Linked DNA regions of Homo sapiens: regions 1 and 3 are each linked to region 2. Evidence: fine-mapped expression QTL. A gene starts in region 2. Each other region holds a variant in brackets. All regions are shown on one strand. Distances are between the middles of the regions.

Region 1 (7,463 bases), 56 kb before region 2:
TCCAAATGAGATTGCTAACTTACTGTGCAACTTTAGGAAAGCCCCTTAACCTGTCTGGGGCTCAGTTTTCACACAAATCCAGAGATCCTTGCAGAGAAAGGTGCAGTTCTCGTTCAGGCAGCAGGAGGCGCTGTCTCTGGAGGCTTAGATTCATTCCCCGCCCTCCGCCCGCTCCCGCCCGCCTCTGGTGCGCAGGCGCGGCTTCGCGGATTGGCCGCGCGCGGGGGCCGTCATTCGGTGGCGGGTCCCGGCCGCGGGGCTGGCGGGCTGAGGGGAGAAAAGATGGCGGCGGCGGCGGCAGCTGGTGCGGCCTCCGGGCTGCCGGGTCCAGTGGCACAAGGATTAAAGGAAGCGTTAGTGGATACGCTCACCGGGATCCTATCCCCAGTACAGGAGGTGCGGGCGGCTGCTGAAGAACAGATTAAGGTGCTGGAGGTGACGGAGGGTGAGTGAGGCGGGACCGTCACGAGGATGGCTCAGCCGCACAATCCGCTGACCGCAGCTCCGTACCGGCTGGGGACATGGGGAGCCTGAGCCAGTTGGAGATGTGGGCGCCGAGAAGTGGAGCAGGAAGCGAGAGATTGATGTCGCTGGTGGTTGTGAAAGTCCGAGAGAGGAGAGGCGCGCCTGAAGGATAGGGTCGGGGGAGGTGGAGCCTGGGAGTGGGGGAGGGAGGGTGGAGACTTGAAAAGATAGATGGAGCCTAGAATCTGCAGGGGACGGAGATGGAGCTAGACTTGGTGCTGTTGGAGGAAGTAGCGCGGTCGGGGAAATATTTTTTGAGTCCAGGACCAAAGTCTTTCGCTGTTCTCTTCACCAGCTGGATTGTACTGGGATAAGAGTAGGGGGAGCTATTAGTAGGAGTGGTGAAGGGTAGGGCCTCGAAAAGGCGGCTATCAAAGCTTAATAGATGTCATCAAACAAGTTTCTGCCTCTGAGTTATAAACCTAGCTAGTTGTTTGTACTCTTCGTGTTTTCCCAGAAATTAAATGCATATGCGATTGCTTCACTGTCCTGACCATACTTAACGTTTATTTTAAAAATAATTTGCCCTTATTAAATACCTTTGTGCATTTCTGTTTGGAGGAACTGATCATCCTTTGTTTTTGATTCTTTGTCTCCGTCCTCTATTGTGTGCTTTAAAGTGATGGAGAAGAAAATAAACCATTGGTTCGAGATTTTCTATCAATTTCCTGCCGCGTGAGCCTTTCACCGGGTCCAGTGTAGCTACCACAAAGAACAATTTAATCCAGAAACAGGAGGAGAAATCTTCTTGGTCTTTGTGTAAGAAATATATCTGGTCAGAGCTTCACTGGAACTCCAAATCCTCAGAATCTCCCAACTCAGGAATATTTCCACCACCACTTAAATACTTCATCAGAGATATGGGAAATTGTCCCATCACACACCCATCATATTCAAAACCTTCAGTTAGCTCTCCTACTGGACGTATTTCTATTGAAAAGAATTTAGAACAAATCTCTCTTAAATTTAGTTTACATTCTTTCACAGTATGAAAGAGCTGTTGAAAACAAATTTTCTTCTGTTGGAAATATGTTAAGATTTGGGATCTAACAGGCTAAGGACCATTTTGAAGGCCCACTTGTAATTGTCATTGTTTTATAAAATATCAGATCTATACAGGAGAAACCACTGGTTAGGAGAAAGCTGTTTGAGAACCATGTATAAACTAATCTAAAGGAATTTTTAGCGGCTTCTAAATAAAATTCGTTTATGCACATTAATGTCTGTCCCCCTTGAGTATGAGGAAGGAAGAGTGACAAAGCAAAGGAACCTCATCACATTCAAGTTGTCACCTGAATAAAACTTGAGAGTCTGGTGCAAATTCATCTTAACTAAACCTTCCCTGAGTGGTACCCAGTGCTCCTGGTGCTCCAAATGCATGTCTGGCACCTTTGTATGAAAGGTGGACCTTGACTTGTATTTAAACTGTCTTACAACAACTCCACTTTTGCTCTGATCTTTTCAACTTTAGCCAAATGCCATGGTCTCATCTGGGCAAAGTCAATTATAAAGTTCTCGAGGTCTTTTTTGAAACTCTGATTCCTCACTTTATTCATCTTTTTTTTCTTGAGACTGGGTCTCGCTCTATCGTGTAGACTTTGGAGCAGTGATGCCATCATGGCTCACTGCAGCCTCAAACTTTTGGACTCAAGCGATCCTCCCACCTAGGCCTCCCAAAGTGCTGGGATTACAGGCCTCAGCCACCACACCTGGCATCTTTTTGAGCCTTTAAGTGAAAAATTAAATTTCAGAAGTACAGAATTTTGATCTAAGTCACTGATGAGAAATAGATCGACTGCCCCCCGACCCCCATAACTTACTGGTAATGTGCTGTTGGGCAGACTATGAGAATGAAAAGTATGGAAAGGCATCGATGCAGTGACCTGATATTGGTGATCTAGTAATAGAGCATATGACTCAGGTTTTGGATTTGGTTAGAGGGTTGGATCAGTCTCTGGAGTTTAGTGCAATGCTTCGGACCCTTTGGAGGCTGCTTGTGTCTTTTAAGTAGTCTGGCTCCTTAATGTCTATCAAAAAAACTATAGAGATTTACCCCCTTCTGTACCTGTTTTAAGGTGGAGAATGGCGGTCCATTCCCTCAGATGCGGTCTGCTTTCTTCCTCTTGTGGCCTTTAACAAGTTATCTTTGACATTGGGTTCAGAGTACCTCCCACCTTAAACTCTGTCTGAATCTCTCAGATGTTTTCTGAACATGGTGCAATATAGTAGCTGCTTCTTTACCAGCCTCAACCCTTCTTTACATGAAAACATAGAACCCAGCTTTCCAGCCGGGATTTAGCCAACTATCTGGCCTGATGAAACTGGCAGGACATGGTTCCTCCTATTAGAATGCCCTACAGAGCAAGATGAGCCATTCTTGCAAACTACTTTCCACTTCTTTGGTGTTGCTTCACATTTTAGTGTTTTTTGCTTTTGTTGTTGTTGTTGTTGTTGTTGTTGTTGTTTTGAGACAGAGTCTCAGTCTGTCGCCCAGGCTGGAGTGCAGTGGTGCGATCTCGGCTCACTGCAACCTCCGCCTCCTGGGTTCAAGCAATTCTCCTGCCTCAGCCTCCCGAGTAGCTGGGATTACAGGCACCTGCCACCATGCCTGGCTAATTTTTGTATTTTTAGTAGAGACGAGGTTTCACCATGTTGGCCAGGTTGTCTCGAACTCCTGACCTCAGGTGATCCACCCGCCTCGGCCTCCCAAAGTGCTGGGATTACAGCCGTGAGCCACTGCACCCAGCCCACATTTTAGTTTTACCCTGGTAGAAGGAACCTTGTTTTCTGATTCTAGGAAACACTTTTTTTTTTTTTGAGACCGAGTCTCACTCTGTGGTCCAGGGCCCAGGCTGGAGTGCAGTGGCATGATCTCAGCTCACTGCAACCTCCACCTCCCAGGTTCAAGCAATTCTCGTGCCTCAGCCTCCCAAGTAGTTGGGATTACAGGCATGCACCACCATGCCTGGCTAATTTTTGTATTTTTAGCAGAGGCGGAGTTTAGCCATGTTGCCCAGGCTGATCTTGAACTCCTGAGCTCAAGCAGTCTGCCCACCTCAGCCTCCCAAAATGCTGAGATTACAGGCATGAGCCAACCGGCCAGGCCGGAAACACTCTTAAAACTTGAAGTTAATGAGAAATCTGGGATTTGGTGTCTATTATTATTTGTGTTCTGGTAATCTTTTGATCATTTTTTGGTTCCATGGGGCCCAGGATCAGGTGACAACCAGATCTAGTCCTCCCTCTGTCCTCTCAAATAACCACACTGTCTTTGTGAGCTGTTTATTAGTCCATCACATAGGAGACTGATCCCACATGGTCTTTAAGATTAACTGGTCCGTTCCCTTTGCCAAAAACATTTGTTACCTTCCTTGGCTACCAGGTGATGATCCCTTGTCTTGAAGATTAAATGGAAGAATATCTAATTTATGGGGAAAGGACACAGGTCAATTGTCAACTCCCTGTTAAAAGGACAGGCAAGAGAAGTTGACATGCTGTGACCAAATTGTACTATAGATGAGATTTTAAGAAGCAGTTATCTTAGAAAATAAAGATTGCTGGAGCCTAGAGTAGTCCTGATCATTTAGTGTACCAGCTGATATTTTCTGATAAATAAATAAATTGCCTATAATTAATTATCACATTTTCCAGAATGGGCACCTGTTCTCTTAAGCCAAGGAAGTGTGTGTATGTGAGAGATCCATTTGATTCATGTAGCGTGTCAATCTGAAAAGGATAAGATAGGTTACTTCATCAGCCTGGTGTCCTGGAATG[ATT/A]TTTTTTTTTTTTTTAATTTTATTTTTTGAGACAGAGTCTCGCTCTGTCACCCAGGCTGGAGTGCATTGGCATGATCTCGGCTCACTGCAACATCCGCCTCCTAGATTCAAGTGATTCTCATGCCTAGGCCTCCCAAGTAGCTGGGATTACAGGCGCGTACCAACACGCCAGGCTAATTTTTGTATTTTTAGTAGAGATGGAGTTTCACCATGTTAGCCAGGCTGGTCTCGAACTCCTGACCTCAGGTGATCCACCCACCTTGCCCTCCCAAAGTGCTAGGATTACAGGCGTGAGCCACTGCGCCTGGCTGGAATGATTTTCTTGAGCCCCTGTGCTTGCTATTTTTGCTAGTCACTTGGAATCTGGAAGAAACCCAGCAAACCTCTCTGAATATTTAAAGTCTATTTAACAGGGCTAATTAGATAAGGAGATGATGCCAGTAACCACCTTCATCAGATAGCACTCCCATCCTGAATTGAGAAGAACATTGCTTGAAAGTTTGGAAGTTATTATGGTGTACAGTATTCTGCAGATAATTGTTAACCTTTCATTTTTCTTTCTTTCTTTTTTTTAAGATACAGAGTTTTGCTCTGTCACCCAGGCTAGAGTGCAGTGGTGTGATCATAGCTTACTGCAGCTTCTAACTCCTGGGCTTACGCAGTCCTCCCAACCTCAGCCTCCCAAGTGGCTGTGACTACAAGCACATGCCCATACTTGGCTGATTTTTTTAGTTTTTTTCTGGAGATGGGGTCTTGCTGTGTTGACCAGGCTGGCCTTGAACTCCTGCCCTCAAGTGATCCTCCTAAAGTGCTGAGATTATAGGCATGAGCAACCACACCTGGCCCCTTTCATTTTTCTTAGGAGGATTGAGATTTTGAGTTTGATCAGGTTTGTAGGAAATTTACTTCTACCTAAATAGGGTAAAAAAAATTTTTTTTAAGTTTTTTTATTCGTTAGAGTAAAAAAACTTTTCTTTTCTTTTTTTTTTTTGTTGCACTGCTAAGAGTCTAAAGCATGCTTTCTAATTCTGTTTTGTTTAATAGGCAGGTTCATATTAAGCACTTTACAAACATAGTAGTTAAAAAGACTGGAGAGGTTATGAACCACCGAAGATCTCTTACGTCAAAGTCTCATATTCTGTACTCAGCTTCATCAACTCTTTTTCTTTTGTTTTTGTCTGACTTACGGTGAGATCATGAGAATTACCATCTTTTGAGAATGTCAGCCTTTTATTTTTGGTGTATTCGTGCTTTATTTTTTTATATCTTAAAATGAAGTTCTTTCCCTCTTTTTCTACTTCTTTCTCTACTTTTCCTCTAAGAATGGCATTATCCAAGTGGTGGAATGGGTTGCTTTCATTCAGAAGCTTTAATTCTTCGTGCCAGCATGCACAGACTTTCTTACATAACTAGATTTAGACCCTAGGACATTTTCTTCTTTGCTTATTTCTTTTTTGCCTATTACAAATGATGACATTTCCCCTATCATTTGGCCTTGTCTAGTTCCCAGTAGATAAGTCACAGAGAATACATTTTTCTTCCCTTCTACCACCATTATGTTGAACAGGGGAGGGGGGAAATTATCTCTCCCTCACCTTTCCTGGCATTCAGATGCTGCCGAGATACCTGTATTGATTTCCCCATCTTAGATGCCTAGAGAGATGATCCTGCTGGCTGGAAGTTTGCTTTCTGGTTCTCATGGGCACTTTTCTGGCTCTTTTGCAGTATAGCGTAAGCACTGTCCACCTGCGAAGGGCGCCCCTCAAGGATCCAGACGCACTCCTGGGCATGTGGCGGGCACTGAGCCGAGCGGAAGGCGGCCACGCTCGGAAAAAGGCCAGTGGTGGAGTTTTCTTTTTCCTTTCAGCTGTGGTTTTGTGGTGCTTACCAACTCCCATGAGAAATAGGGGGCTTGTCCAGGGGGTCTACTCAAAACCGCATCCTTCTCCAACAATCCCTGTTCACAATTCTTATTAGTTGACTGTCAAAGTACTGCCAAGTCTTGTCTCTCTAGGAGACCCTTCAGACCAATAGCATGTATTTCTTAAGTGATCCTTTATCCTCCATGCTCTCCTTTGGGTTTTCCCTTCTAAACCAAGTTTTAGATAGATAATGTTTTTGCCATATGGGGTGATAAGAGAGAAAGGGGAGCAAGGATAACGAGAGGGAAGCAAAAGACTAAAAGAGAATGAGACTAGAGAATGAAAGAGGGCAGAGGATTTCTTAGGAAGTCAAAGGATGCCATTTTGGATAGGAATAAAGGTATAATTAAGGAGAATCTAGAGTCAGGGTGAAAACCCAGATTAACAGAATGAACTGTCCTTATTTCACCATGGGAAAGGGAACTAGAGAAATTAAATTTCCTAACAAAAATAGCTTTAGAAAACAACTTCATATAGCCCTCTTGGCAGTGTTGCCCTTTGGCTCAACTTCATAGATTGAATGTTAGTTTAATCTTAAACAGTCGTTTCCAAGCAAAGCAAAATAAAGCGGATATTTATGTCTGTGTTTCTTATATTTTCCCTGCCTTCATCATCCCAGAGTAAGTTATTAGGCTATTCTTTCTCATATTTTTAAAGACATTGTGTTAAAGACACCAGGCCGGGCACAGTGTGGCTCACTCCTGTAATCCCAGCACTTTGGGAGGCCGAGGAGGGCGGATCACAAGGTCAGGAGATCAAGACCATCCTGGCTAACATGGTGAAACCCCATCTCTACTAAAAATACAAAAAAATTAGCCAGGCGTGGTGGCGGGCGCCTGTAGTCCCAGCTATTCTGGAGGCTGAGGTAGGAGAATGGCCTGAACCCGGGAGGCAGAGCTTGCAGTGAGCCAAGATCACACCACTGCACTCCAGCCCTCCAGCCTGGGTGACAGAGCAAGACTCCATCTCAAAAAAAAAAAAAAAAAAAAAAAACAGACACCAATCAGTAAAACCAGAAGTCCCCCAACACACACACACGTACTTTTTTTTTAACAAATATACTTAGTTGTATTTCAAAAAATATTGTATCTCTGTTAAGTGAAAAATCTGTAAGTAGGGTTTTACTACGTAACAGAAACCAATGGATAGGAGCAAATGTGTTGATCAGATTTAAAATAAGGCCAAGAGCTTTAGAATTATTTTCTGGCTTTTCCTTCTTTGCATTAGTTTGTTTCTTAGT
Region 2 (7,463 bases):
CGCCATCCTGCCCAACTGGCAGAGTGGCAGGCTGAGTAAGGTGCCATTTAAAGATAACCTGGCCCTCACCATCTGCCCCACTGGCTGGGCTGGGCTCCTGAGGCCAGGCCTTGGCTGCCTGGGACTGCTGCTGCTCCCACAGCCACCCAGAGTGTGCCTGAGTAGGGGGCTGCTCACAGCTGCCATCCAAGCCAGCCTGGCTACACCCTCTTCTTTCCTGAGGCCCAGGCTGTCCTGGGCTCTCTACAAACAAGCAGAAGCCTGGCGTTCTGGGAGAGGCAATCCTACAAAGGCATTGGTAGAAAGTCCTTCTGGAGAAGAGTGCTCCATATATATATATATAAATGTATAGGATACTTGTGCAACTTTGTTACATGGAAGAGTACACCTTCTTACCAGTAGCTTGGCAGCAGTGAGGCTCATCCTCACTGTCCTTCACCCACCCTCCACTTGCTAGTCCCTCCCACCAAGAGGACAAACAGGAGACAGTCTTTCATTTACAGCAAGAAAGATTAAAGCTGGATGCCAAGAAAAGCATTCTGATTTAAGAGAGATGTTTGTTTATTCCGGGGCAGTGAGAGCCAAAAGACCTGGTTCCCCAACTAAGCCATGAGACTTGGCCAAGTCCTGGTGCTGTCCTAGGCCTTACTCTTCCTAGCTGTGGACTGCAAGGAGAATTAATGTGTCCAAGACCCTCCAGGAAGGATCTGACATTAAATCAGAGTAAAGAACTCAGGGTCCTATGGAGTGGGGGAATGTATAATTACCTGTCTGCAGGAGTTGGGTTGCCAGAGGCTGGGCAAGGAGGAATAGAAAAAAGGAGGGCAGAGTAATGTAGAGTGCATTCCTGGAGAGCACTGACTGACCAGAGGCAGGAATTAGGAAAGGAATGGAGTTTCCCTTATCTTGGAATGGTTCAACAAACCACTGGCCAGACAAAAGTGGAGGCAGGAGCCTCCACGGCCAAACAGCATGGGTGGGGTAGGACCAGGGTGGGATGGAGCCTCCAGGGCTCATGGCCCAGGAAAGTAAGGAAGGCCTCAGGAATGCCTGTGTTAGTCTGCTCTGATAGAGGAGCATGGAAGAGGTTGGGAGGAGCCCTGGGCTGGTCATTCAGCCCAGGAGTGAGGTGACTCAGCAGAGCACTCCTACCACAGCCCCTAGCCAAGCCCAAACTGGGTCACAGGCAGGGTCCCAGCCCTTCCCCTCCTCCTGCCTTTCCCCACTTCAGATATCCCTGGCTACCTTCTCACCACATGCAGAGGCCTGCTAGAGATAAGGGCTGGGCATCAAAGTTTCCCTGAATACATGCTTTTTATGCCAGGCATAGCACTGAACATTTTAGACTTGTTTTTTTGTTTGTTTGAGACGGAGTTTCGCTCTTGTTGCCCAGGCTGGAATGCAATGGCGATTCCCGGGTTCAAGCCTCCCGGGTTCAAGTGATTCTCCTGCCTCAGCCTCCCGAGCAGCTAGGATTACAGTCATGTGCCACCACACCCAGCTAATTTTGTATTTTTAGTAGAGACGGGGTTTCTACATGTTGATCAGGCTGGTCTCCAACTCCCGACCTCAGGTGATCTGCCTGCCTTGGCCTCCCAAAGTGTTGGGATTACAAGCGTGAGCCACCGTGCCTGGCCCTTTAGACTTGTTTAAAGAGAAGCAGGTGGTGAAGCTGAAGGGCCTGGGCTTTGAAGCCACAAAAGTCCAACTGCAAATCCCAGCAGTGTGAGCTGGGGGAATTGAAGTTCTTCCAACTTCAGTTTCCTCATCTGTACAATGGGATGAGCTCATCAGCAATGTTCGCTGCTGGTGGTATCATTACCATCATATTCCAGACACCCTGAGGAGAACCTCCTACTGGCAAAGCCTATGTTTTGTCTCATCTGATCACAAATTACTCTGCCTCCTCTTTTCCAGGAAAGCGTTTCTTTCCCTTGCTGGGGATTAAGAGACCAGCTTGGTGAGCGGGGGGTATTCCTGCCTGCCCTTACCTAGAGAAGGTGTAGTGAAGCCCTTCCAGGCCTGAAGATTTAGACAACTTCTTCCAGGGCCCCCAGTCCTCCCACCCAAGCCCCTCCTCACTCCTGGCCAATCTACAGACTCTTTCAAGACCCAGGTTCATTATGGCGACATAAGCTAGCCCCAGCTCTCCATCTCCGAGCTCCAGCATCCCTTGTCAAGGTAAGAAGTGCCAGTTCTCCCAGTGCAGCCAGTTCTCCCCTCTGGTTGGCCCACAGCCCCCTCTCTTCACTCTCTGTCCTAGTCTAGTCACCTCCCATCCCATGAACTGAAACACATTCTTAGAATTTTGCAATTAGAAAATCACTGATGATGTTGGTGCGTGCTAGGTGTCATTGCAAGCTGGAAGTGTCAACTAGGGGTATACACTTTGAGGAGGGCGTGTCAACTAGGGGTATACACTTTGAGGAAGGCTAGTTGGAGAAAAAAGCAGGAAAGTAGCTAGAGAGGGATGAGTTTTAGGAAGGATGTGGTTTGGTTTGGTTTGCTTTGCTTTGCTTTGCTTTAAATAGGAGAGACTTGAGATTTCCTAGGGAAAAGAAGCTGGTAAGGTGTGAGAAGCTAAAGACACTAAAGAGATGGGATAATGAAGAGACAAATCAGCAGGGGTCAAGGGTACACATGGGAGATTCAGCTCTGGGCAGGAAAGACAGTCCCTTATCTGAAGATGATTCAACCAACAATGACAACACTGATGGCTAGGGCTGGATGGCCACATTGAACACAGCCACGTGGTCCCTGCAGTCATGGAGCTTTTAGTGTAGGAAAGAGGAGATGGATGGCAATGGGCACACTGAGTAGGTGGTGCTGGATTCAGAGGCGTTTCTCTTTGTCCCTGCTGCTGCATTTATGACTGTGTCCTGCGTGAGGACATACTCTTGCCCATCAGGCTACCAGCAACTTTCTGGGGCAGGAGCCTATCCTCTCCTATTCCAGCTCTCTTGGGTAGGTGTGCCAGCACCCACAGGGGCCCAGGATGGGGTAGCTCCTCTTTCGGCTGTCCTTCCCTAACCTACTAAGATTCTACTGGGCCTTCCATGGACCTGTCCTGATTCTCTCACCCCAGAACACAAGAAATACTCACTGTCTACACTGTCTGCTGTTGCGGCTGGGGATCAACCCTGATTTAGATTTGGGTCTTCCTGATGCCTCTACCATTTACTGGCTGTATTACCTTGAACAAGTTCTTTAACCTCCATGAGTCCTAGTTTCTCAGTCTGTGAAATGCGATTGATAACACTGATGAACCTTGCTTAGTTCATGGAGTTGTGGAAAGATTCCAGTGAGGTAGATGTGGAAGCCCAGAAGTGTGTGAAAGGGTGTACATGGCAGGGGATTAAGGTAGGCTTTTGATGATCTCCCTGGCTTAATTTGCAGTTCCTCGGAGGGTACCTCATGTAGCATGGGGCATAGTCACTGGCACTCAGTATAAACCTGTGAAGACTGACCTCTCCCATCCTAAAACACTGTCTCCACCTGGAATTAACTGTTGCCCACCTGAAATTAACTGTTGCCCTCCCTATGCTCCGGTGGCTATTGCAGTACAGGCTTGCTCTGTGAAGGGCTTTCACTGTGAAGAGTGTTTAACTGGATGGGCCCCAGGTGGCCCCAGCAGCCTGCCTTCCCTGCTAGTGAGGCCATGGGCTGGTGCATGCCAGCTCTGTCCACTTGAAGGGGGAAGGGTCCATCGTAGGGAGCCAGTGCAGCTGGCAGGGTTCAGGCCTGTGGGCACCGCTGGGGACAAAGCCACTCTGAATGCCTCTCAATGAGTGCTTGTGTTCTGGGAATGGGGGCGGGGTGACATCCAGCCTCTTTCCCTCTCCGCCCCCGACAGGATGTCCCAGGCTGGACGCGGCAGAGGAGGTCCCCCACAAGTGAAGGTCCAGCCCTGCTCCTCCAGGGTTGGCCCATGTGTCTGGGCATTCGGAGGTGGCACCAGGATCAGGGCTTCTGGAGTCCAGCATAGTGATTGGGCCCAGGCCGGGGGCGGGTCCAGGACACAGCCAGGCTTCCCTGGCCGCAGTGCCCAACTGCCCGCAGTGCCCATGGTGGCTCGGATGGGAGGAACCACCGCGGAGCCGGGGACAGGGGGAGCAGGGCAGTGCTCTGCTGGGTGAGGGGCACCCAGCTCCAGAGGCTAGGTGGGCGTCGCTGGTGGGTGGACTCCTGGGCGCTGCGCGGAGCCGCGCCGGCTGGGTTAGCGCGGGCGGGGCGCTTAGTCCCACCCCCAGAGGAGGCGGAAGAGGAGCCCGAGCCTGGCCGCGGGCTGGGCCCCGCCGCAGCTCCAGCTGGCCGGCTTGGTCCTGCGGTCCCTTCTCTGGGAGGCCCGACCCCGGCCGCGCCCAGCCCCCACCATGCCACCCGCGGGGCTCCGCCGGGCCGCGCCGCTCACCGCAATCGCTCTGTTGGTGCTGGGGGCTCCCCTGGGTAAGGGGATGGGGAGAGATGCGGCAGGAGTGGGATGGGGGCGGAGGAAGGGGAGGGACCGATCCGAGGGGCTTGGGCTCGGGGCTTCTCCGAGACCCTCCGGCTGCCACGGGAGCCTTGGGTGTTGCTGGGTCCTCAAGAAGCGGGAAGAGGGAGCTCCAGGATGCTGGGCCATGGGAGGCTGATCCCGGGGTGCAGGGTCAGCTTCAGGCAGAGGCCTCGGGGGCTCTGGGGCTGAGACCCTCAGGGTGGAGACAAGGGGCAACCCTCAGTGTTCGGGAGCCGTCAGGCTGGGGACCGCCGGGGGAGTGGGGCCGAGCGCGGCTGGGGATGAACTGGCCTGGTGGCCACTGGGCACCCCCAATCCCTGCCCGCAGTGCTGGCCGGCGAGGACTGCCTGTGGTACCTGGACCGGAATGGCTCCTGGCATCCGGGGTTTAACTGCGAGTTCTTCACCTTCTGCTGCGGGACCTGCTACCATCGGTACTGCTGCAGGGACCTGACCTTGCTTATCACCGAGAGGCAGCAGAAGCACTGCCTGGCCTTCAGGTGGGTTCCTGCCTCCTCACCCTCACCACCTCCTCTATCCTTTTCTCCAGAGGCCTCCTCTTCCTCCCTCCCGGACTCCTGCCTCCTCCGTTGTCGACCTCCACATTCTTAGCTGAATAGAGTCACCAGGACTCAAGCCTGGCGGCAGAGCTAGGTGCTTAGGTGCTGGTGCCTGGGAGTTCCAGAAAAGGCATGTTAGTTACCTTCATAGGCTTTGACTGGGCCCGGGGTTTCCAGGTTCTTTCTGGAGCCCTCCCTTTGGTCCTGCCAGGTCATGGGGAGGGAGGGTTCAAGGTTAACACCCGGACGACAGTGTAGCTTTGTGGAAGAAGCTCTGGCACAAAGGCAGGAGACTTGGGTTTGATTCCCAGGTCCACTTCTTACTAGCTGTGTGATCTTGGAGAAGACACTTGCCTTCTATGGGTCATTGCTTGCCAAATTAGTGGTTGTCAAACTTTTTTTTAATATATCATATATAAAATAGATATAGAGACTTCTGATTGAAGCGGGGTTTGGAAAAAATGGCTCTAGATTATTTCTAAGGCTCCTTTCAGTGTTATGCTGTATGTCTAATCATTTAAGTTGTAGATATAAAAGCAATGGTTGGGGGCGCACTGCAAATCCCCGTATGCTTCACACTAGCCAGCCAGGCAGCATAGCCTTCTGGGAAGTGGAGGTCCTCTAAGATCTCCTTCACAGGGACTGGGCAGAGCCCCACAAGGAACCCCAAATCTCAGCATGCCATGGCCCCCCTGCTGGCCAGGAGTTGGAGCCAGCATAATGAGGACTCCGTCCTATGAGTGTTGGAAGGTGAGAGGACCTGTTCTTTGTCTAAAGCCCCAAGACCATAGCAGGCATCGCCTCAGCTGTGATCCTCTTTGTTGCTGTGGTTGCCACCACCATCTGCTGCTTCCTCTGTTCCTGTTGCTACCTGTACCGCCGGCGCCAGCAGCTCCAGAGCCCATTTGAAGGTACACCCAGTACTGGGCAAGAAGGGCCTCAGATGGGCTGGGCTAAGTCCAATAATGGGCAGCAGAGAGTTCATGGATTGGGTAAATTCTGTAGTAGTATGTGCTTCTGTATACACACACCTGCCAGCATGAAAACCCAGAAAAATGCTTGTAAACCCGTGAATATTAGAATGTGCCTGGGATATATGGAACATCAGACTTTGTGTGCATTTCTGTGCATACACATGAAGATTCAAATGTGTACAGGAGTGCAGTCTGTCAACAATAGTGGGTGCAGTGGGTGTATGCATACATATGACTCTTAGTAAGTACACGGGGTCAGGTCTGTAGTGATGAACATTAATTGAGTGTGCTCCAGTGGATGGCAAAATATGTGCCTGAGTGTTGGCATGTGATGCACATATGCCACAACCTGATGGACATGGGGACAGTGATGCCATACGGGAGATCAGTGTGGGAGGGAAGGGCTAGGAGAAGACCCTCTTAGTGGCAGCTCTGCTGGATTACAGGATACCAGCCCTGAGCTGTCCCCTTCTTGCCCAAGTGAGATATTCCCTGGGCTGTGCTCCCTGGTTCATGAGGTCTCTGAAACCTGCTGAGGGGAGCAAACTTGCTCAACACAGATTGACCAGCTGGGGCCACGTGCACAGCTCCCTGCTTAACTCTGCCAAGCAGGGTGTGGGAGGCAAAGATGGCCAGCCTGGAGCTTGCCAGAGGCCAGCACCAGGGTGCTTACCTTGGTTTCCTGGGCAGGAGGAGGAGGCTTCCCATAGGAGATGGGTCTCTGAATGCTGATCCTTCTCCCCCATCTAGGCCAGGAGATTCCAATGACAGGCATCCCAGTGCAGCCAGTATACCCATACCCCCAGGACCCCAAAGCTGGCCCTGCACCCCCACAGCCTGGCTTCATATACCCACCTAGTGGTCCTGCTCCCCAATATCCACTCTACCCAGCTGGGCCCCCAGTCTACAACCCTGCAGGTAAGTAAGCAATCTGGAGCCCCTTGCTGCTGCCTTCCCCCACCCCTTGCCCTGCGACCTCCCCTGTGCCTCTCTCATTCTCAGATTCCCTCTCCCAGACTTCCTCCACCTCTAGCCCGAAACCTCCAGGCCCACTCTTCCCTATGGGTCCTGTCTGCCCCGGGGGCAGGGGTGTTACTTTTCGTCCACCTATGCCACCACTCACCCTCATCCTGTCTCTTTGGCTTTCAGCTCCTCCTCCCTATATGCCACCACAGCCCTCTTACCCGGGAGCCTGAGGAACCAGCCATGTCTCTGCTGCCCCTTCAGTGATGCCAACCTTGGGAGATGCCCTCATCCTGTACCTGCATCTGGTCCTGGGGGTGGCAGGAGTCCTCCAGCCACCAGGCCCCAGACCAAGCCAAGCCCTGGGCCCTACTGGGGACAGAGCCCCAGGGAAGTGGAACAGGAGCTGAACTAGAACTATGAGGGGTTGGGGGGAGGGCTTGGAATTATGGGCTATTTTTACTGGGGGCA
Region 3 (7,463 bases), 30 kb after region 2:
AGGCCTGTGTGGCTCCTCCTCCCAGGTGCTGGGCTATCTGGGGAGAGTAGCCCACACCCCACGTGGTGCCGTCCACTGTCTGCAGCCCCTGTGAACCCTAACACTCACAAGTGGCGCCAATGCTGAGGACCAGCTTGAGAGTCAGAAGGCCAGGGTTCCACACTTTGCTCTTATGTCAACATGGACAGGTTAATTTGCCTTCCTCATCTGTAAAACGGGGATCACATCTGGTACGGGGCGGTATTAAGGCTTCATTGAGGTGAGTGGATAACACATCCACTTCCTGTGGCTGCACAGGAAGCTTTCAATAAAAGGTAACTGTCATTATGGGTCTAGCTCTCTCCTGGTTCTTCATAGCATCTATCCGAATTCTTCTCCCTTCTCTTAGTATCTCTCGTCCCACTCCACCCCTATTCTTGGCAGACAATCTCCTCTAATTTCTTCCCAGGCAGACAGAGGAAACAACCCATGGCAATTCTCCAACTTCCTGCCACCTCTTCTACAAACTCACCTCCAGGCTCATCTTTCACCTTCCCTCTCCTCCTGCCCAGGCTCACCCCTCCCCACGCACTCTGGTGCCCACCCCTCCTCCCCACATTGCACTCCCGCACCCTCTTCCACAGCCTTAGCCTCTCCCTCTTTCCTGGCCCCTTCCCACCACCCTTTAAACCTGCCCATCTCTCCCGGTTAATCAGATCCTCCTTCTGTCCACAGTCCCTTCCAGCTGTAGCGCCAGCCTTCCCGTATACCCAAACTTCCTCAAAGAGCTCTACTTTTTGATCCGTATTCATTCCTCAATCCAACACACTCTTGCCTCACCCCCAACATTCCATGGAAATTAGTTTCATCCAGATCACTTCTGACCCTCCTGTCACTAAGTCGGATTTATCTTTTATTTCATATATTGCTCAAACTGCGTGGGAAGCATCTGGCGCTATTGGCCAGGTCCTTCCTTCAAAACGCTTCCCCATCGGTTTCCACCGCAGCCTTCATGGCTTTCCTCCTAGCTCTCTGATAGCTCCTTTAGGCCTCCTTCAAGGACCCTCTTCCTTGAGACATGTGGGTGTTGGCAAGGTCTTATTTTAGGCCTCCTTTGTTTTCACCTTTAGAGCCTCTCACCGGATTATCTCATCCATTCTGATGGCATCAGCTGCATTCTACGTACTGATGTCTCTCAAAGCTGGATCTCTGGGCCAGACACTACTAGGAAGGTAGTACCGTCTAATGAATATCTTGGTTTGTGTGCCCCAAAGTACCTCAAAAACTGGACTCCTTATCTTCCCCCACTGCCTTGCCGACCCCTGCACTATTCCCTATCTGGGCAAGTGGCTCCTCTAAACACCCAGTGACTCCAATCAGAACCCGGCTGGGAAGAGGAAAGGAGGGATCTGTGGGGAGGCAACGTGGACCCCTCTGCACCCCGCTCTGCACTCACTCACCCTTCCCTACCAGTAGCCCAAGTGATTTTGGGGGAAGGCTGGGAAATCGACCTATTATATACTCCCTCGTTACCTGCACACAGATACTACAGCCTGAACCCCACTCAGATCAATCCCTCTCCTCCATCCTCACAGATGTTCCCTTGGTCCAGGCCACTATCACCTCTCATGGGGTTATAGCAACAACCTCCTCTCGGTTTCGCTGACCTCCTCCAGGGCGATCCTTGCACGGCAGCCCCAGGGACCTTGCTGAAGGCCAGACCCATCCGAAGCCTTTCAGTGTCTAATGTCTGAACTTTTTTTTTTTGATACAAGGTCTCATTCTCTCCTCTGGGCTGCAGTGCAGTGGTGTGACACGGCTCACTGCAGCCTTGACTTCCTCCAGCTTGTGATCCTCCCACCTCAGCCTCCTAGGTAGCTGCTACTACAGGCATGCACCACCACACCCAGCGGATTTTTGTATTTTTTGTAGAGACGGGGTTTCGCCATGTTGCCCAGGCTGGTCTTAAACTTCTGGGCTCAAGCGATCCACACACCTTGGCCTCTCGGAGTGCTGAGATTACGGTGTGAGCCACCACACCTGGCTTGAACTACTTTTATGATCAGAAAAATACAACAAAGGCACATCTATTCCAGGACTTTGGAAGGTCAGGGTGAGGGGAAGCTGGAGCCCAGGAGTTCAAGACCGTCCTGGGCAACATGGTGAAACTCCATCTCTACAAAAAATACAAACATTAGCCAGGCGTGGTGGCATGTGCTTGTAGCCCTAGCTACCTGGGAGGCTGAGGTGAGAGGATCACCTGAGCCAAGGGAGGTCGAGGTTGCAGTGAGCCGTGATCATGCCACTGCACTCCAGCCTGAGCAACAGAGAGAGACCCTGTCTCAAAAAACAAAACAAAACAAAACAAAACAAAAACCAACAAAAGCTGTTTTATGAAAAAGAAACAAAATTGTCTTTAAATAACTGAGTTTCACAGCAAAAACAAAACAAAATTAAAAACCAAGAGGCATCAGGCCGTGGTGTGGGGAGGAGGGATGGATGGGGCCAGAGGTGGGAGGGAGGGGATTCCCCGTCACTGTGCTCAGTCTTCAGCCCGGCTGTGCTGTGCCCAGGACCTGCCTCGCAGCCTGACCTTCGCCTGGCTCTGTTCCAGCAATTACACATCAGCCCCGGTGATAAACATCAGTGCTGAGCAGAGGGCCAAAGGGTCTCAGGCACTGCCTCCAGCTCCAGCATAAACAGAAACGCCATGATTCATTTTTACCTCCCAAGATGATCTCCAGGGGTCGGAGTGGCGCAATGGCAGCCAAGAAAAGGGCAGCGGTTTGTGAACCTGGGAAAAAAAGGGCATTTTCTGATGCAGTCCTGCGGGAGACCAGGCTTTACAAGAGGAGTGAACGCCACCATCTCAGGGCCTGCTCTGTCTTTGTAGGGAAGGGGAGCAAAGAAACCTTCTGGAAAAGACAAGGATAATGTGCAGATGTGGGTGGCTGGGCACTTACACTGCATGTGTCACCAAACTCTGCCAAGGCTGGGAGGGTTCTTGCCTGCCTTGAGTCTTTAAGGACCAGGGTTTCTAGTGAAAGGGATGGTAAATGGGGGAAGGTGGCCTGACCTCAAAAGCCTGCCAAGAGCCATCAAGAGGCACCAGAAAGGAAGGCACGGTGAGCGGTGTCTGTGTTTCACCTAGGCCCTTACCCCTACCACCAAGGCTTCTGCATTCACTGCAAGTAGAGAAAGACAGAGGCGTTTTGAGGTGAGGGCATGCAACACAGCCTGCAATAGCTAAGACTTCACAGTCAGCGCCATTCTGGCTTCTGCCTGGGGGTTATGCAGAACCCATCACTAGGGGGATGAAGGTTCTTGTGGCAGATCTTCTCGGCCAATGAAGGGTCAACTCCATTGCTCTCAGCAGAACTAAATGCTTTGCCAACTGGTCTGGTGACTCATACTGGGAAGCTTGTAGCAAACCCCATTTTTGGAGAAACCGGGAAATCTCTTTGGGGAGA[TA/T]AACAAGTCACTGTAGCACTCTGCTCTCTGAAGTGCCTGGCTAGTACTTTCTGCTTCTTCATTTTATCCCAGCACCAAGGAAAACCCAAGCAAGTCTGGGAAATGTTGTAAAGATCTACACAAATGCAAGCTATTTGTCCCAGGCTTCTGGGTCCCACTTAGGTCCCGGAGGGTGGCAGAAGGAACATACTGTTCTTTTACTGCCTGGGGCTGTGAGCAGGAGGCCTGGCTTTCATACAGCCCCTCTCCTGTTCCTTCTAAACAGAAAAGGGTACATTGGCTAAAGCAGGAGCAGCTTTATGGTGTCTGACCTCTGCAGTGCTCCAGGGCCCCATGCTCAGAGGGCCCTACGCTTGGTTTAATTCTCTGCTGTCATCGTCTTGAAAGTTTTAGTAATTCTTGAGCACATTTTCATTTTGCGCTAAGCCCTGCAAATTCTGTAGCCAGTCCTAGGCCTAAGAGGCCAGGGATCAGGGATGGTGCAGCTCTCTGTCTTCCCGCCTTCTCCCTCTTCAGGAATGGCTCTCCCACCCCACAGACACTGGGACATCAGCCTTGACGCTTCCTTTTTCCCTCACCACGTTCCCTTCATCCCACCTTCCTAACATAGCTGAGATTAGCTTCCTCACATCCCCTCACCATTGCTGTGTTTGCGGCCTCCATCATCTCTTGCCTCCCCACTGAACCCCCTGCCTCCTGTCTTCCTTCTCTTTGAGTGCACTCTGTCTCCAGAAAGACCTTTCAAAATGTGATTCTGATCCATGGCTCCCATGCTTTCAGGATGAAGTGCAGACTTTGTAGCATGGCAACAAAGCCCTCCGTGACCTGGCCTGTGCCTGCCTCTGTGCGCCCTCCCCTTCCTGCCTGCACTCTGGTTACAGTGAGGAACAGCCACGCTGGGCTCTCTTGGGTCTTGCTGCCCTACCCCATGCTGGGCTCTCTTGGGTCTTGTTGCCTATGCATGCTGCTCCTGCCACACAGGATGTCCTCTCGCTTTCTTCTCTGCCTGGCTAACACTTCTTCTTTTGTTCCTCCTCCTTCTTTTTAACTTTATATGTGGAAAAGTTCGACTGTACAACAAACTAGAGAGAACAGCACAATGAACCTCAAGGTACCCATTGCCCAGCTTCAGCGATTCTCTACATATGGCCAATCTTGTTTCATCTGATGCCCACCCATTTTTGTCACAATCTCACATTATTTGAAAGCAAATTCCAGGTGTATCATTTCATGCATACATATTTCAGTGTGTACTCTATTTCTTTTTTAGGGACAGGGTCTCACTCTGTCACCCAGGCTGGAGTGTAGTGGTATGATCATAGCTCACTATAACCTCAAACTCCTGGGCTCAAGTGATCCTCCTGCCTCAGCTTTCCGAGTATCTAGGACTACAGGCATGTGCCACCATGCCTGGCTAACTTTTATTTTTGTAGATCTGGGGTCTTGCTATGTTGCTCAGGCTGGTCTCAAACTCCTGGCCTCAAGCAATCCTCCCGCCTTGGCCTCACTTTTGCTGGGATTACAGGTGTGAGCCACCATGCCTGGCCTCAGTGTGTATCTCTAAAAGACAGAAACTTTTTTTTTTTTGGGGGGTCAGAGCCTCAGTCCTTCACCCAGGCTGGAGTGCAGTGGTACTCACTGCAACCTCCGCCTCCTGGGTTCAAGCAATTTTCCTGCCTCAGCCTCCCAAGTAGCTGGGATTACAGGTGCCCACCACCATGCCCGGCTGATTTTGTATTTTTAGTAGAGACGGGGTTTCACCATGTTGGCCAGGCTGGTCTCAAACTCCTGACCTCAGGTGATCTGCCTGCCTTGGCCTCCCAAAGTGCTGGGATTACAGGCATGAGCCACCACGCCTGGCCCCTTTTCTTCTTTTTTAACCTGACTCTGTGTCAGAAAGCCCATTTGGTCCTGTTATTCCCAGGGACTGTATAAAGCAAGGTGACCCCTTCTCTTCTATGTGAGTGCTCTGTAGGTATTGGGTCCTCTCCCTGAGGCTGCTTTTCTGTGGGCTAGAAAAGTTCATCTGTTAGACTAAGCCTGCCATTCCAGCCTGACTAGAATTTTCTAAATCCTGGTTCTGCTGTTTAAAAGCTCACTGTGACTCTCAGCTTCAGATAATCTGCCAGTGTGGTACATGTGCCTTCTGGATCTTTTTGTCCACTAACCAGGGCAGACTCCAGGGCAGAACTCTCTGGTATCCTACTACAGGCCTCCAGGGAGCCACCAATCAGCATCCACCTGCATCACCTTCCAGTCCACATCTCTCCATCCTGGCCACTAAACTATTGTAAGCAGCCTTTTTCAGTGTCTTCCTAAAGTCTCCAGAAGAGCCCAGGACTTCAAAGAGTAGAAGGAATATATTGGCTTCAATGCCATCTCCACCCGCCACTGGCTCTCTCTCTTTTTTTTTTTTTTTTTTTTTTTTTTTTGAGACCAAGTTTTGTTCTTGTCACCCAGGCAGCTGGGGTGCAATGGCATGATCTTGGCTCACTGCAACCTCAACCTCCGGGGTTCAAGTGATTCTCCTGCCTCAGCCTCCCAAGTAGCTGGGATTACAGGCACCCACCACCACGCCTGGTTAATTTTTGTATTTTTAGCAGAGACAGGGTTTCTCCATGTTGGCCAGGCTGGTCTTGAACTCCTGACCTCAGACGATCCGCCCGCCTCAGCCTCCCACCCACCATTGACTCTCTGACTGGGGATTACTACCCCAGTAAAATGACATACTTTCCCAGGCCTTGTGAATTGTTCTGGAAAGACATCATGCTACAGGGTCAATACAACTCCTAAATGCAGCTCCCTTTTAGCAGCTGAGGCCCTTGGAGACACCGGTTTTTCCTATGCCAAGGCCACAGAGACCAGAATTCCACTTGCTTGCTGAGGAAGTCAATCATAGTTGAGAAATAGCTGAGGAGTAAGCTGAGTCTTTAAGCTCAAGGACAATTAGGAGGTGGGTCTGGATATTCTACTGGAAGGGAGAAAGAAAAGCCAAGACCTACTGGGAAGACAGGGAGCAAACAAGGATGTCAAGCCATTAAATCAAGGAGGCCAAGTGGCCTCTACACAGTGCAGGACCCAGCGAATATAGAATAGGGGGTGGGAGGCTGGGCGCGGTGGCTCACGCCTGTAATCTCAGCACTTTGGGAAGCCAAGGCAGGAGGCTTGCTTGAGCCCAGGAGTTTGAGACCAGCCTGGGCAACATAGTGTGACCCTGTTTCTAAAAATAAAAATAAATAAATAAATAAAAAAGTAAGAAAGAAGAGAAAAAAAGAAAGGAAATGATGAGATCTTGGACCAGGCTGAGCAGTGAACACAGAGGAGTGGAGATGCATTCCATGGACATTTCTAGGGTACAGTTAATAAGATTCAGTGAAGTGGACAATGCCGAGGAGAAGTGGAGGATGACTCCCTGATTTCCAGTTTGGTTGCCTGGTTAGAGAGTGATGCTTATAACCATGGCGGGGAATATGGAGCGGGGAGATGAGGGTGGCACTTGAGATGATCAACTGTTTTGGCCATGACAAAATTTAAATGCCTAACAGGTTGGCATTAATAAAGATCTGGGCTGGGCGCAGTGGCTCACACCTGTAATCCCAGCACTTTGGGAGGCTGAGGCGGGCAGATCACGAGGTCAGGAGTTCGAGGCTAGCCTGGCCAGCATAGTGAAACCCCATCTCTACTAAAAATACAAAAATTAGCTGGGCATGGTGGTGCGAGCCTGCAGTCCCAGCTACTCGTGAGGCTGAGGTTGGAGAACTGCTTGACCCCAGGAGGTGGAGGTTGCAGTGAGCTGAGATTGCACCACTGCCCTCCAGCCTGGGCGACAGAGTGAGACTCCATCTCAAAAAAAAAAAAAAAAAAAAAAAAAGATCTGGGGCTCAGAAAGGAGATCTAGGCTTGACAGGTAGGTTTGGGAGTCATTGGTGTATACGTAGCAATGAAAACCACGGGAGTAAATATGGTGACTCTGAAAAGTGAGTTATCAGGAAGAGGAAAGGGACTTACAGAAT

Which allele goes with the higher level. Alleles are on the strand shown, and positions count from the first base shown. SD is a standard deviation of normalised expression in the study named. Not every link is listed here.
In carriers of allele ATT in region 1, the expression in macrophages of the gene that starts at base 4,277 in region 2 tends to be higher than with A alone (moderate effect, 0.58 SD a copy in Nedelec 2016).

What was found.
Region 1: its variant is fine-mapped to the expression of SHISA4 in macrophages (Nedelec 2016, PIP 0.91).
Region 3: its variant is fine-mapped to the expression of SHISA4 in tibial nerve (GTEx, PIP 0.96).

What each region holds. Positions count from the first base shown.
Region 1 is chr1:201,828,928-201,836,390 of GRCh38, forward strand. IPO9 (importin 9) reads left to right here and starts at 230. Exons shown (of 24, transcript NM_018085.5): 1 at 230-445. The coding sequence starts at 283. It overlaps IPO9-AS1 (IPO9 antisense RNA 1), which reads right to left and starts at 632. Exons shown (of 3, transcript NR_046696.1): 1 at 24-632. RefSeq lists enhancers at 14-308, 320-529 and a silencer at 30-269. The variant ATT/A (reference allele first, on the strand shown) is at 4,300.
Region 2 is chr1:201,884,622-201,892,084 of GRCh38, forward strand. It overlaps SHISA4 (shisa family member 4), which reads left to right and starts at 4,277. Exons shown (of 5, transcript NM_198149.3): 1 at 4,277-4,446; 2 at 4,824-4,995; 3 at 5,833-5,966; 4 at 6,780-6,947; 5 at 7,179-7,463. The coding sequence starts at 4,374. The coding sequence ends at 7,225. RefSeq lists enhancers at 3,770-4,279, 4,120-4,414.
Region 3 is chr1:201,914,192-201,921,654 of GRCh38, forward strand. All of the region lies in intron 1 of LMOD1 (leiomodin 1), which reads right to left. Among named protein-coding and RNA genes, the nearest start is that of LMOD1, 29 kb to the right of the region's middle. RefSeq lists an enhancer at 18-518. The variant TA/T (reference allele first, on the strand shown) is at 3,450.